Homo sapiens: one gene and its partner. The protein of the gene in region 1 purifies or fractionates together with the protein of each later gene. This does not show direct contact. Each region holds a gene or a part of one and is shown on either strand. Other genes may lie near its edges.

Evidence for each region. Proteins that work in one complex are often made in the same cells at the same time.
Region 2: the proteins of GALNT13 (region 1) and LRRC3 purify together in Homo sapiens (affinity purification with mass spectrometry; 2 studies listed by BioGRID and IntAct, with this or other methods). This does not show direct contact.

The regions. Positions count from the first base shown.
Region 1 is NC_000002.12:154,238,905-154,245,923, reverse strand, and holds part of GALNT13 (polypeptide N-acetylgalactosaminyltransferase 13), read right to left. Parts: intron 3,895-7,019; coding exon 3,728-3,894; intron 3,227-3,727; coding exon 3,019-3,226; intron 113-3,018; coding exon 1-112. UniProt on the Homo sapiens protein: Catalyzes the initial reaction in O-linked oligosaccharide biosynthesis, the transfer of an N-acetyl-D-galactosamine (GalNAc) residue from UDP-GalNAc to a serine or threonine residue on the protein receptor.
Region 2 is NC_000021.9:44,450,574-44,458,525, forward strand, and holds the start of LRRC3 (leucine-rich repeat-containing protein 3 precursor), read left to right. Parts: upstream 1-4,936; 5' UTR 4,937-5,082; intron 5,083-5,924; 5' UTR 5,925-6,071; coding exon 6,072-6,845; 3' UTR 6,846-7,952.

The sequences.
Region 1 (7,019 bases):
CCAGCGGAAATTCAGTTTCCAGTTAAAACCCCCATAAGTCATGTCTGACCCAGCCATATATTCAAAAGTATCATCACTAATCACATCAATGATAGGGCAGACAACCGTTTTCCTGCAGAGAAATTAAAACCAATTTATAGACACATGATAATTAAAATGTTACATTATCTTCTTCAAACTGATTATAGCTGATATGAGGAAATTTAATTATTTTGTTACTTTAATATGCCTTTAGCTTCATTTTATCCTATTAGTCCATGGAATTATTTCCTTTGACTACATATTCCTTACAGTTTACTTTATGCTATCTTTTGAAATCTAAACAAGTTTATTTCCAAATGCATTCTAAGTACTAACTTAGCAAGATGAGCAGGGTCTATTTTTTATAAAACCTCCACCCACAGCATGATTAGTAGAGCTGCTTTGAGATTATGCATCATTTTAGCTATAATCCATTGAAAAGAAATAGCATTCAGGGAGGTAAGAAGGGATGATGGCAAATTAGATCTGGTAGTTTGCATTTCAAGTAGGGTACGTTAGTTTAGAGAGTTCTGAGAACATCTTCATGGAGAAAACACCTACTAGGAAAAACAAACAGAAATCAACAAACAGCAACAACAAAAATCATAATCCGTCAGTATAAGTAAATGTTTCCGATGAAAGATGATAGGGTCATGACCATTTCTGAGTAAAATGTCCTCAAATTAAGAGTTTACATGTATAATCTAGATGATAGCTTAAGATAGGGAAAGATAAGCAACTTTAATCTCTGGTGTTTTATTTATTTATTTATTTATTTATTTATTTATTTATTTATTTTGACAGAGCCTTGCCCTGTCACCCAGGCTGGAGTGCAGTGGGGAGATCTCAGATCAGTGCAAACTCTGCCTCCCAGGTTCAAGCAATTCTCCTGCCTCAGCCTCCCAACGTGCCTGCCATCATACCTGGCTAATTTTTGTATTTTTAGCAGAGACAGAGTTTCACCATGTTGGCTAGGTTGGTCTCGAACTCCTGACCTCAGGTGATCCACCTGCCTTGGCCTCCCAAATGCTGGGATTATAGGTGTGAGCCACCGCACCTGGCCTATCCCATTTTTCTTAAAGTAAGAGAAAGGTTGGTGTTCTTAATGGTAGCTTTCTATGGTAGAAAATTTCATTTGGGAAAATCATTAGGTACACTTTTAATCCATGTTGTGCCTTCTCTAATTCTTGATCTAATGCCTGTTCATTTATTTTATTATGGGACCAACCTTCTGTGATTTCCACAAGTAAATGTTCAGGCCTACTCAAATTGTATTGGTTGTAGCTAATTCTGAAGACCAGAGTTGGTTTTTCATATTTGGTAGAAGGTAAATACACAAATAAGCTTCTGAATCATCCCTAGATATGAAAAGCACATAAATGTCCATTATTCATACTTGTTTTGTAACACCAGTTTCACCAATACTCATTTTCAATTGAAGTCTTATATTCCACACAACTGACCAGAGCCTCAACTTATCTGCGATCAACAAGACTCCTCTAGCCTTGGAAAACCTTCTTGGTGACTCTGGACCCCAGAAAAATCAACATTTTTCTCACTTCCTTTATTAGATTTAATGATTTAACTTGTGAGGAGAAGAAATTAGGTCTAAAAATCTTGAACAGACTGTCTATTTAGGGTAGTTTTAAACTTTATAATCAGGTCAAGACAATAGGGTTCATCATATGCAAATACAGTGCAATTATGTTGTTAGATCAAAAAAATAAATAGCCTATGTATGACCGTATTGAAACATTAAAAGCTCATTCAGTTGAATATGAAACACATGTGGAAAAAAAAAACAACATAATGTACCAAAATTTGCCAGGAAATTCATTTTTAAGTTCATTTTACTTTGCCAGTCTGATTGTCCTGTGGGTACTGTACAATACACAGAGTGGAAAAATGTTATTAGCCATGTACAACACTCTATGGACTAAAAGGTTCCTACTGCTTTCTTCAACTGCTGTGCTTCATTTTACTGACAGCTTCCATCCATCTTCCTGGCAAGTACCAAATCCTGCTGTTTAAGTGATGTGGCTGGACTAGCTCAGACTAAGTAGCTCCTATCTTGAGTGTCTAATTAAAAATGTCAATTCTAGAAGGAATTTTCTACTATAGACGAAATGACTATGCAAGTATGGTGTTATGTAATGTTTTGTTATTGTATCAGTTGGCATTCAATGTTAGTTATCTAGGTATTTAGAAATTATACTCTCTTATCACCAGTGTTTATAAATATTTGCTAAAAAATGCTTGTACTTCATCAACAACAGAAGGAATTGCAGGTATGTATAAGGATTCTTAATTTCTATAAGTGTTATTTATTCAATTTTCCAGATTTCAAAATGTGTATGTATAAGGTGACATTGTTGAAATAATTAAACATATTCTTATAGCTGTGCTCTTATGTTTCTTTTTTTAATTATAATTTTTTCAGTGCTGTGTGTGTGCATGTGTGTGTGTGCATTTTTAAGACATTCCAGGTGGATTTGAACTAGACTGACTAAGGGTGCTCGTGTAGTTTACAGAACACTGGCAGAGAACTGGAAAGAGCTGAATTGTTGTTCCCAGCACTTCCAATGACAGGAGCAAGTTAGATGTGGCTTCTTTGTTCCTCCTCATTATAAGTTATAGATAAGAATATCTACAGTACCTACCTCACAGGGTGGTTGTCAGAACACAAAAAGGTGCTTTGAAAATGTGCTTTATAACACAATTATACTATTTTAGATTATATTTATTTCCTTCACCTAAAAAGTAATTTAACACGTTTTTATTATTTGAATTATTTCACTATTTCTTAATCAACTATCTATGTCCAGCATGAATACAGCAGTCTTATTTATCAAGCAAGTGGGAAAACGTGCTTTTAAGAAAAGCTATAAAATAAACCTTCTAAAAATAGCAACTTGGAAGAGAAATTCTGATGGACATCTGGAACTGTCCTAAGAGGTTCAGTCATAACCCAGGCAGACAGAACACATAAATTCTTACCTGTCTTCCTTTATTCTTGCCAGCAAAGGCTCCAGCCATCCTAACGTGCATTCACAGTGTGCATCAAGAAAAGTTATGACCTGCCCTTTTGAAGCAGCTGCTCCTCGAAGACGGGCACGTATTAACCCAGAGCGTTCTTCCATCCTAATAATTTTTACTGGCACTTCTAAATTTTTCACGTAATTCTCTAATGTCAACTTGAGAAAATCTGTAACATGTATAAGAATTTATAAGAAAAATTTTTGAAACTGTTTTAAGAAATAGCAGAGATACTACCAAGATGGAAATTCAACACACAGAAATGGTGGCCAATTCCTATCAGTATTTACTGCCTTAGATATAAAATAATAGAGATTTCATTAGTTAATTAATGTCAAGTATCCATAAAATCATATGAGAATGCTCAATAATATAATCAATTGAGTTGGAAAAAAGATATATTTTTGAAAGTCATTTTGGCTGAAATTTTAGGTAAGAACCATATAGAATCATGAGAGAAAGTGAAAGAATTAGTTATTTGCTTCTAGAGTTGGCATTAATGAGGTTCTTGATGAGAATCTGATAGGCTGTGGCAGGGCTAGTAAAATTATAATGCAAATATAGATCATTGCCTAGTTATCTTTTTGGCCATAATAAAGCTTTCTAATACAAAAAAACAAAACAAAACAAAACAAAAAAACAAAAACAAAAACAAAAAACCAGTTTGTACCTCTTTCACTGGCATCATCTACCAAGATGACCTCTGAGAGTAGATAGTGTGGGGAACGATTTATCACACTGTAAACAGTTCTAAGGAGAGTGCTCCAAGCTTCATTATGAAACACAATGACTACACTTGTGTTTGGAAGTTCATCAGGGTAGACTTTTGTCTTACATCTGAAAAAGAGAAAAGAAGAGGGATCTTAATAAATGCATTTTTTATCCTGATTATTTTAAAAAGAAATATCCATAATAACACAACTTCAGACTTGAAAGCCCCTTACTAAGGAAATGTTTTATGAATATCTAAAATCATTTCCCTTTTATAACTGCTGTGAGTAATCAGTTGGCATTCTGAAAATTAAATATGCATAATTACTAATATTTTTATTTTAACTCCTGCAGGGAACAAAGCAGCATGATTTCTACAAGTCTAAGAAAAACCTAAGAAATATAAAATAACATTCTGAAACTGGTAAAACAGGTACAAATGAGTTCATTTAGTGAATATAATTTTATCATTTGTTAATAAAAATGTATAACTCAAGAAGTCATAGGAACATAAACAGACAAGGGTCCAAAGGGTTTTGAAATATGTAAAACAGATTTTTCTGTTCTAAATCTAGTCATATATGCTTTTAATTCCATTTGAGGATGCTATAAACAATGTCTACTTCCAAGGAATGATTTAGGTTTCCTTTAGATTCAGAATCTACTAAATGCATCCTGGCCTCTAAAATTTCCCTATGTTTTGGAGATCAGGAAAGGGAATGGACTACCAGCATTTCTCAAACTGTAATGTGCACAGTCACTGATATGGAAGTGCTGGGAAGGTAAGAGCGTGGTCCCTTTAAATGACAGGGAAGAAGGGAAGGGAAGTGCTGGGTAGAAGAGGGCGTGGTCCCTGGCTAGGGCTCCACCCCTACAGACCCTGGGTGAGGACAGGCATTTCCTGCCCAAATGTTGGATTTCCCAAGACCGCCCTGGCCTGCCATCCTGTGCCTATAACCACCCCCGCTCCACCACCCCCAGACTCTAGAAGGCAGACACACAAGCTGCTGGACGTCCAGAAGAGCAGATCTGCCCGAGAAGACACAGACAGCTGGATGAAACAGACAGCTGGGTGTGGAGAGGAGCAAGTCAGCGGAGGAAGGCACGGACGGCTAGACATGGAGAGGGATGCACCAGCAGGCACCGGCAAGCCAGCAAGCCATTGACCAGTGGGAGGAGGCGGAATTTGGCTGGGGCAGTCAGAGGAGACAGCCCAGGCCGCTGAGGTGCTGGACTCCAGGGGAAAACCTTCCCACTCCATCTCCTTTCTGGCTTCCCCCATCTGCTGAGAGCTACCTCCACTCAATAAAACCTTGCACTCATTCTCCAAGCCCAAGTGTGATGTGACTCTTCCGGTACACCAAGCCAAGAACCCCGGATACAGAAAGTCCTCTGTCCTTGTGACAAGGTAGTGACAAGGTAGAGGGTCTAATTGAGCTGGTTAACACAAGCTGCCTATAGATGGCAAAATTAAAAGAGCACACGGTAGCACGCTCCCACTAGGGCCCTAAACACTGCTGTGGGGTCGGAGCCCCACAACCTGCCCGTCCGTCCATATACTGCCCTAGAGATTTGAGCAGAGGGGCACTGAAGAAGCAAGCCACAGCCCCATCACACGCCGTGTGAGAGGGAGAAGGCAACTTTTCCCATTTCAGCATCACCTGGAGATTTATTCAAATGCAGATTCTAATTCACTAGGTCTAGGGTGAAGTTTCTGCATTTCCGAAAAGCTCCCAGATGATTTAGAGGCTGCTGGTCCCCAGAGCACACTGATTAGTAAGGGGCTACACCATCATTATTACTACTTTTAGAACTTAACATTTTGAAAAATGTTTTTGACTTTGCTTATAAATCCAAATAAGTCCAGATTTTTCTTTTCAAGCAATCAATCAAGGTACACTTGGATCAATGATATGTGTAGTGCTGTAGGTGGTGATCCCAAATTTAACAGGCAGATGTTTGTTGCTCCCATCAACTCGTCAACATTCAGGCATTTCTGTCATGTCATTTTAAGTCAACGTGATTACAGATTATTAAAAAATGTCAAAAGGTTTCTGGAGCAGAAACAGAAGTTTATTCACCTGAGGTTATTTTTTTATGTAAAATATTCTGAAGAGCTAGATAATTAGTACCATAATATAAACTGAATCAGATACCTCTTGCTAATTATGAATGGGTTAATGCATGACACATACAGCATTGTTGAAATTAGTTTCCTTCACAAGGGAGTGAAAAAAATACAATAAAATGTGGAAGATGAAGGCATATAACAGATACTTGATTGTGTGCCAGTTAAGATCTTCATTATTTTTTAAAACCGTCTAAAAGATCACCTACCCAATAAAGTCTTCTGCAATATAGCCAGCTAAAAATGTCCATTTACCTCAATTACAACATTTTCCAGCATACATTTATTTGAAAAAGATTTATTAAGCATCTATAATACAAAAGATACTGTGCATATAAGAAAATAAAAATGTAAGGCATGGGAAAAGTAGTTGGATTTATTGTCATCTCTTTCTGGTGGCAAGATTCAAAAGATTTCTATGAACTTCATCATTTGACTTGTATCTCCAAGTAGCTCATCACTAAATAAACTTAGAAAGTCATCTTGGTAAATGAGAGAGGGTTCTCTCTACCATTTTCCTCAAATTTCCATTCTCCTGCCTCATTAAAAAAACCTAATCACTTTGAGCATGCAAAGCCAAGAGTAAGGTAAAGATCATCATCCTCCTCAAAGAAGTACAACTAGAAAAACAGGCTAAAAGCAGTCCAAAAGCCAACAACCAGTGGCTTCACTCAAGGACTACAGTGAATAAAGTCTACTCAGCATCATTTTTTAAAAAAGATTTTTTCAATCAACATTTTTTGTATGTTACACGAAATGCCAACAATTAAATGATTTAAAATGTCAAACTAAAAGCAGATATTTCGATACAGCATCTTAAAGTATTTCTACCAAGCTTTACTTTGTGATTAAAAAAATCCACTCACAAATGTTACCTTTATATTCATTTTATGTGTCAAAATTATAATGAATTAGTTTACTGTTAATGTAGCTATCATGTTTACTTAGAGAAAACTTCCACTGTCATTATTTAATGTAGCATAAAAATTAAATAGGGCTAATATTTTAATTAATTCTTCCTCTTCTTCCTGTGTAAACAGTCATTCATCAAAGGGTAAAATGGTTCAGTTATGGGGGATGAATAACTTCTGGAGATCTAATGCACAGCATGGTGACTATAATT
Region 2 (7,952 bases), on another chromosome or scaffold:
CCGGGAAGAGTCTGTGACCGGCGAGCACGCCGCACATCTGCCTTGTCTTGACGGTGGCATCACCCACACTTAGTCATGCACACACCTCTTAGGCGTGAGCAGCTGATGGGTTACTGATGTCAGCAACCAGCACCCAGTCATCTCCAGCCCCCAGAGCCCTGGAGCCCCTGCATTGTTGTCCCCATGCTTCTGACCTCCTCACCCCCCACGAGTCTCCTCTGCTCTTGAACCTCCCCAGTCGGAACCTGGCCAGGTGTCCTTTGCATGCCTGGCCTCCTTCACTCTTGGTAACGTCTGCGGATTCATTCCTGTCTACGCTGCAGTGTTCAGTGGCAACTGCATGAATTCACTGAAAATATACTGTAACGTTTGGGTTTGGCTGTGGCATCTCTTCCACTTTTAACATACCAACTTCACAGCTCACATTATTTTAATCCCTTTAAAAGATAATTGATTTAAAGCAAAAATCATAACAATGTGTTGTGGGGTTTATGACACACGAGAAGGTGTGATGGTGATGGTGTAGGGTCCAGGTGAGGGTGGGGGCACCCCGCTGTGGGGATCTTACAGTGTGCCTGACCGGCTGGCACAGGAGAAGCCGGGACAGGAGAAGCCGGAGGTAGGTCACTCTCCACCCTGGGGCAGCCACTGACAGCAGAGTCGCTGCGGAGGGGCCAGGCGGGGAACACACACGGAATCCTAAGGAAAACCTGAGGCTGGAAGAGAGGACAGAGGAACAGGGCTGTGTGGAGCGGCCAGGGAAGAATCAGCACACACCGGGCCCGGCCAGAGCGCTCGTCACCTCAAAACAAGGTCATCAAAGCCAGAATCACCCCAGCAAAACAGCGCAAGCTGGACCGCTGCCCTCACTCAGCTTCTACAGTTTCTCTGCTCGTGTTCTTTGTCCCTTCCAGGATTCCACGCTGCTTTTAGCTGTCACTTCTCCTGTCTTCTGTTGCCTTCCATGAGCTTTTTGCCTTTGAGTGCACTGACCAGTCACTTTGTATGGTGTCTCTCAGTTTGGGTGTGCCCAGGATGTTCTCACGATCGGAATGCGGAGATGCATTTTTGGCAGGAATATCGCAGAAGTGACGTCCTTCTCAGGTTGTTGTATCAAAGGTACGTGATGCCAATCTACCTTGCCACTGATGGCCCGAGCTTTGTCACATAGATAAGGTGGTTTCTGCACTGAAAAGCTGTTATTACTTTTTTAGGTTAATAAATATGTCAAAGCAGATACTTTGATCCTATGGAAATCTCCAATGAAGCTAATTTAAGTATAAGACACACTAGGTAAAAAGTAACAAGGTAAAAGAAGATATCCCATGCTAAACTAATCAAAGGAAAGCAGGAGTCAATTTCAAGTCAGAGTCTAGGGATAAAGAGGGTCATTTCATGATGACACAGGGGTCAACCAGTCAGGAGCATGCACGATGTGAGCACAGAGTCTCAAAACACATGAAGCAAAAGCTGATAGAGCTGCAAGGAAAAATTACAGACAAATCTGCAATTACAGTCAGAGGTTTCAACACCGCTATCAAGAATTTGTTTGTTTGAGACAGGGTCTTGCTCTGCCACCCAGGCTCAAATGCAATGGCACAATCACGGCTCACTGCAGCCTTGACTTCCTGGGCTCAAGAAATCCTCCTGCCTCAGCCTCCCAAGTAGCTAGGATTGCAGGCATGCGCTGCCATGGATGGGTGAGTTTTTGATTTTTTGTAGAGATGGTGTCTCACTTTGTTGCCCAGGCTGGTCTCTCAATAATTAGCAGAGCAAGTAGACAGAAAGTGGATGATAATATGGGCTACTCAAATAACACAGTCATTGCCGTTTATAGGACACCTCGTGGAGCAACAGTACACAAATTCAAGTGCGCATGCAACAACCGCCAACCATAATCGGGGCCATGAAAGAGTCTCAATAAATTTAAAAGGATCCGAAACATAGAATATGTCCTCTGACAACAATGGCTTTAAAGTAATGATCAACAGCAGAAAGAGCTCTGGAAAATGCACAGATATGTGGAAGTGAAATAGCATAGCTCTAAACTCATGGGTCAAAAAGGAAATCAAAGGGAAAATTATAAATTATTTTCAACTTAATGAAAACAAAAATACAACATATCAAAATTTCTGGGATGCAGTTAAAGGTGGACTTAGAGGGAAATTTATAGTACTGAATGCTTGTACAGATCAGTGACCCCAGCTTCCACCTTAAGAGACCTAAAAAAGAAGAGAAAGTCAAACCCAATGTAAGCAAAAGAGGCTGGGTGCAGTGGTTCATGCCTGTAATCCCAGCACTTTGGGAGGCCGAGGTGGGTGGATAACCTGAGGTCAGGAGTTCGAGACAAGCCTGGTCAACATGGTGAAACCCCATCTCTACTAAAAATATACAAAAATTAGCTGGGCATGGTGGCACATGCCTGTAATCCCAGCTACTCAGGAGGCTGAGGCAGGAGAATCACTTGAACCCGGAAGATGGAGTTTGCAGTGAGCCGAGATTGCCCCCACTGAACTCCAGCTTGGGCAACAAGGCAAGACTCTGTCTCAAAAACAAAAACAAAAACAAAAACAAACAAACAAAAAAACAAGCAAAAGAAAGAATAAAGAGTGGAAGTCAATGAAAAAAAAGTGCATCAACGAAACCAAAAAGCTATTTCTTTGAGAAGATCAATACAATTGATAAACTGCTATCTGATTGTTCAGTTAAAAAAAAAGCCACAATTGCCAGTATCAGAAATGAGAAAGATGACATCACCTCATACTTCACAGATGTTGAAAGGATAAAGGAATATTATGAACAACTTTATGCTAATAAATTCAACAACTTATATGCGATGGGCAATTTCTTGAGCGATACAAACTACATACATTCAGTCAAGAATAAAATAAACTCAGCAGTTGTATATCCATTAAATAATTCAACCACATATAAAAATGATAATACATCATGACCACGTGGGCTTTATCCCAAGAACACAAGATTGATTTAACACTTTAAAATCAATCATTATACTCTATCATATTAATAGATCATCACGCAAAAAGATTCTCAATAGATGCAGAAAAAACAAAATCCAACTTTCATTCCTGATTAAAAAGACTCTCAGCAAACAAGAGAAAGGATAGTCTTTTCAACAGTCTGGAAAAAACTGATTATCCACATACACAAAAAATAAACATTGAATCATATCTCATACTATAAACCCAAATAAACTTAAAATAGGTAATAGACCCAAATGCAAACCTTTAAAACTCTAAAACCCTTGTGACTTTGGGTGAGGCAAAGATTTCTTATATATGACACCAAAAGCAGGATCCATAAAAGAAAAACATAAATTGGATTTCCTCAAAATTAAAAAATTCTGCTCTTTGAAAAACTGTTAAGAGAATGAACACACAATCCAAAGGCTTGGAGAAAGCATTTACAGATCACATATCTGATAAAGGACTTGTATCCAGAATATGCAACAAACTCCCAAACTCAATAATAAGAAAATAAACAACCCAATTAAAAGTGAGTAAAAGATTTGAACTCAACGCTTACTACAGGAGATGGAGAATAAACAGATGAAATGATGCTCAACATCATTGGCCAACAGGGAAACGCAAATTAAAACCACAGTTCCATCTATCACCACACACCTATTAGAGTATTTGAAATTAAAAAGACAAACCATACCAAGTGCTGGGGAGGATGTGGAATGTAAAACCATACAATCGCTTTGGCAGTTTCTTAAAAAGTTTCACATATGGCTACCGTGGCATCCAGCCACTCCACTCCTAGACATCTATTCAAGAGAAAGAAAAGCATTCATCCAAAGACTTGTGCACAATGTTCGGATCAGCTTTATCTGTAAGAGCCAACACCAGAAACAACCCAAATGCCCACCAGCAGGTGAATGGACACAAACTGTGGTACATTCATACACTGGAGTACCATGCAGCTGTAAAAGAAATACGCATTGACAAACCAAATGACGCAGGCAAATCTCAAAAATAATTGTGCTGAGTGAAAGAAGCTACACAAAAAGTACATATTATATGATTCCATTTGTGCAAATCATAGGAAATGCAAAGTAATCAGTAGTGACAGAATGCAGATCAGTGCTTGCCTGGGGATGAGGGAGGGCAGGGAGAGATGACCAAGAGGGAACCCGGGGTGTTCACTATGCTGATTGTGGTGATGGTTTCACAGGAGTATCCGAGTGTTAAAACGTACCAAATTGAAATATGTGGCTTACCGTCTGTCAATTACACCACAATAAGGCTACTTTTTGAAAACCATGAGGATGGCTCAGGTCCGGCTCAAATGCCCCCACCCTGCGTTCCTTCCTTGGGATGTCAGACGCTGGAGCTGGAGCAGAAGGGGACCTAGATGGGCGGAGATCTAGCCCTACTCACCCACTGGCCACGGGGTAGGCGAGGGACGCTCAGCAGGGGCTTCCCGCAGACCCAGGGTCTTCAAGCCCCAGAAGTCCTGATGCCAGAGGGAAGAGGGGATTTGCCCAGAGTGAGGGGCAGGGGCTGGACCCACAGCCCCTCCCGGCGCGCAGACCCCGCCCCCACCCATAACCACGCCCTCAGCCCCCACCACCTCGTCCTCAGCCCCACAACCACGCCCCCAGCATGCCACAATTACTCCCACAACCCGCCCACAGCCCCTGCGACCTGGGTCTTAGTACCAGCTCCATCTAAAGCCGCACCACCGGCCCCTCCCATGCCCCTCCCATGCCCCTCCCCCATCTCTTCCAGGCCCCGCCCTGCCGCAGAACCCGCCCTCAAGCCCCGCCCCCGCCTAACCACAAATCCCGTTCCGGTCTCCTTACATGCCCCGCCCCTTCCCCGCCCCCGCGGGGAATCGACACAGCCTGTCTCCGCCTTTCGCCCCGCCCCCTCCAGGCCCCGCCCCACCCCGCCCCTCGCCCGCGCAGGCCGGAGTCGCGGCCTCCCCAGCTAGTGGTCGCGGGCGCGGTCGCAGGGGCAGCGGGGTGGCCGCCGCGCCAGGCGTGGAGCTGGGTCTGGCGGGCTCCGAGAGGCCCGGGAGCGGCGCGCAGAGCAGCCTCCGGCCGCCGCCGCGCAGGTAAAGCCCCCGCCCAGCCCTGGGAGCGTGGATTCCCACCCACCCCATGACCATCCCCCCGCCGCGAGTGCTGGGGTCTCGGGGGTCCCAGGTTCCGGGGGTCCTAGGGCCGGAGGGTCTAAAGGCTGGAGGTCCTGGGGGTCCGAGCCTCTCCCGGCCGGCTCCGCGCGCGGCCCCGCCGTCCACGCCCAGCGCGGGCCGCGCGCACAGGGCTTGGCTTCTCTGTTTTCTCGGTTTCCTTCTTCAGGCAGTTGAAAGAAAAGGCGCGGTTCTGTGCCCGGTGCGAGCCGCGGCTCCTTTAGGGCTGGCAGGGAAGGGCTTGCTGGGTTATGACAGTTTTTAGGGGTTGTCGGAGTCAGCCAGGCGTTGGCTGCTGGAGTAGCCCCTGGCGCGCGAGCGCCCGCTGGTGCCCGGCCACGTGCCCAGCTTGACCCGCGCTCCAGGTTCGGGAGAAGCTGCAGCCGTCACCGTCCTCCTGGCGTCCACCCTGAGGAGGGAGGGGCTGGGTGGTCCAAGCCGCCGCCACTCCGCCGCCCGGCCTTTGGTCCCCAGCGGTGCTGTAGGTGGCCAGGGGTGGCCGCAGTGACCACCCACTGGGCCATGCGGAGCCCCCTGGCAGTGCCAGCTCCCTGCACTTGTGGGACGCTCCTCCCGGGCGCATTGGGAGTCTCCAGAAGTAAGTTACAGGCAGAGCTGTTTAAGGAGGCGTGCTCCCCACCCCAGACCCTTCAGTGGGCCCTCAACACCCTCCCCACCAGTGGACGCGTTTCCCAGGTGACCGCAGCCGGCAGTGCTGACCACCCTCCCTCCCTCTCCGCTCCCTCCTGCGTCTTCCCTTTCAGAGCTGCCAGAGTGGACTGCACTGCTTCTCCCAGCGGGGCAGGATGGCGGTTTCATGTCTGGTTGGATAAGGCCTTGCCTGCGGAAACCAGCTCCATCCCCAGGCCCTAGCAGAGGCTCGCGTGTCCCCGTCCCCAGGTCAGGTCAGGATGGGCACCGTGCGCCCACCTCGCCCCTCGCTCCTGCTGGTCTCCACCCGGGAGTCTTGTCTCTTCCTCCTCTTCTGCCTGCACCTGGGCGCCGCCTGCCCACAGCCCTGCCGGTGCCCTGACCACGCAGGGGCTGTGGCTGTCTTCTGCAGCTTGCGGGGCCTTCAGGAGGTCCCCGAGGACATCCCGGCCAACACCGTGCTCCTGAAGCTCGATGCCAACAAGATCTCCCACCTCCCGGACGGGGCCTTCCAGCACCTGCACCGGCTCAGGGAGCTGGATCTGTCTCACAACGCCATCGAGGCCATCGGCTCCGCCACCTTCGCGGGCCTGGCCGGGGGCCTGCGGCTGCTGGACCTGTCTTACAACCGCATCCAGAGGATCCCCAAGGACGCCCTGGGCAAACTCAGCGCCAAGATACGCCTGTCCCACAACCCCCTGCACTGCGAGTGCGCCCTGCAGGAGGCCCTGTGGGAGCTGAAGCTGGACCCCGACTCTGTGGACGAGATCGCCTGCCACACCTCAGTGCAGGAGGAGTTTGTGGGGAAGCCTCTGGTTCAGGCTCTGGATGCGGGTGCCAGCCTCTGCAGCGTCCCCCACAGGACCACAGACGTGGCCATGCTGGTCACCATGTTCGGCTGGTTCGCCATGGTGATCGCCTACGTCGTGTACTATGTGCGCCACAACCAGGAGGATGCCCGGAGGCACCTGGAGTACCTGAAGTCTCTGCCCAGCGCCCCCGCCTCCAAGGACCCCATCGGCCCGGGGCCCTAGCGCCTGTTCCGGCAGACCCCCGCCGGTGGCTGCTGTCACTTTTGTAGTAGGTGGTGACTGATGCTGCTTTTGCTCTTCCCTGAGGCAGGTGTCACAGCCATGTGTGCTCCCCACTGTTGCACTCAGGCACAGCAGCACCTCCAGGCTGGGTGGTTTTGCCACACATCCGTGTGACGGATGAGGAACCTGAAGCTTAGAGGAACGGAATGACTGCCCGTGACGATACCATCAGGAAATTATCCCAGTGGAACTTCAACCCGGGCTGTCCATCGTGACATTCCGCCTCCTTCCACCATGCCAGCCTCTCCCACACGGGGCCCTGCAGGCTGTGGATATGCACTCAGAGGACTAAGGGGGTGCTCTGCAAGCGAGAGGGTTCACCAGAGGGAGCTTGGGTGCAGGTTCACCCGCTGAAGGCGCTGATAAGTCCTGTGCTGAGGAGCTGACTTGCCCTTGTTTACTTACAAAGTGCATTGTAGGTAAACATGAGCCTTGTTCCAGTGTTCGAAGTACATTGGAACGTAAGCCCTGTTTCCAGAGCAAAGTAACAGAGACCAGGTTTTTCTAGAGAGCTAAGTGGGATGTGTAGCTCAAACAAACTGTCCTACCCTTTTTTATTCTCAAATGTTTGTTTTGAGTAACCGTAGTGCCAAAATTTCAGTTCAGTAATGGGGTGAACAATATGGAGAGAGACCTGGGAAAAGTCCAGGGTAGCTTGCCCAGGGGAAGACAGCAGCCACATACCTGGGGGCCCGCCTGCTTCCTGCCCCTCTGGGTGTGCCTGATGCGGGAGGCCCTGCCCCAGGGCGATCTCAGCTCACTGCAACCTTTGCCTCCCAGGCTCAATCACTTCTGCTGCCTCAGCCTCCCTAGTAGCTGGAATTACAGGCATGAGCCACCACGCCTGGCTAATTTTTGTATTTTTAGTAGAGACCGGGTTTCACCATGTTGGCCAGGCTGGTCTCGAACTGTTGGCCTCAAGTGATCCGCCCGCCTCAGCCTCCCAAAGTGCTGGGATTACAGGCGTCAGCCACCGCGCCCGGCCCTGTGCCTTGCTTTTTCTACTCACTAAGATATAAAACAGCTCTTTTTCCAAGGCCCGGAGTA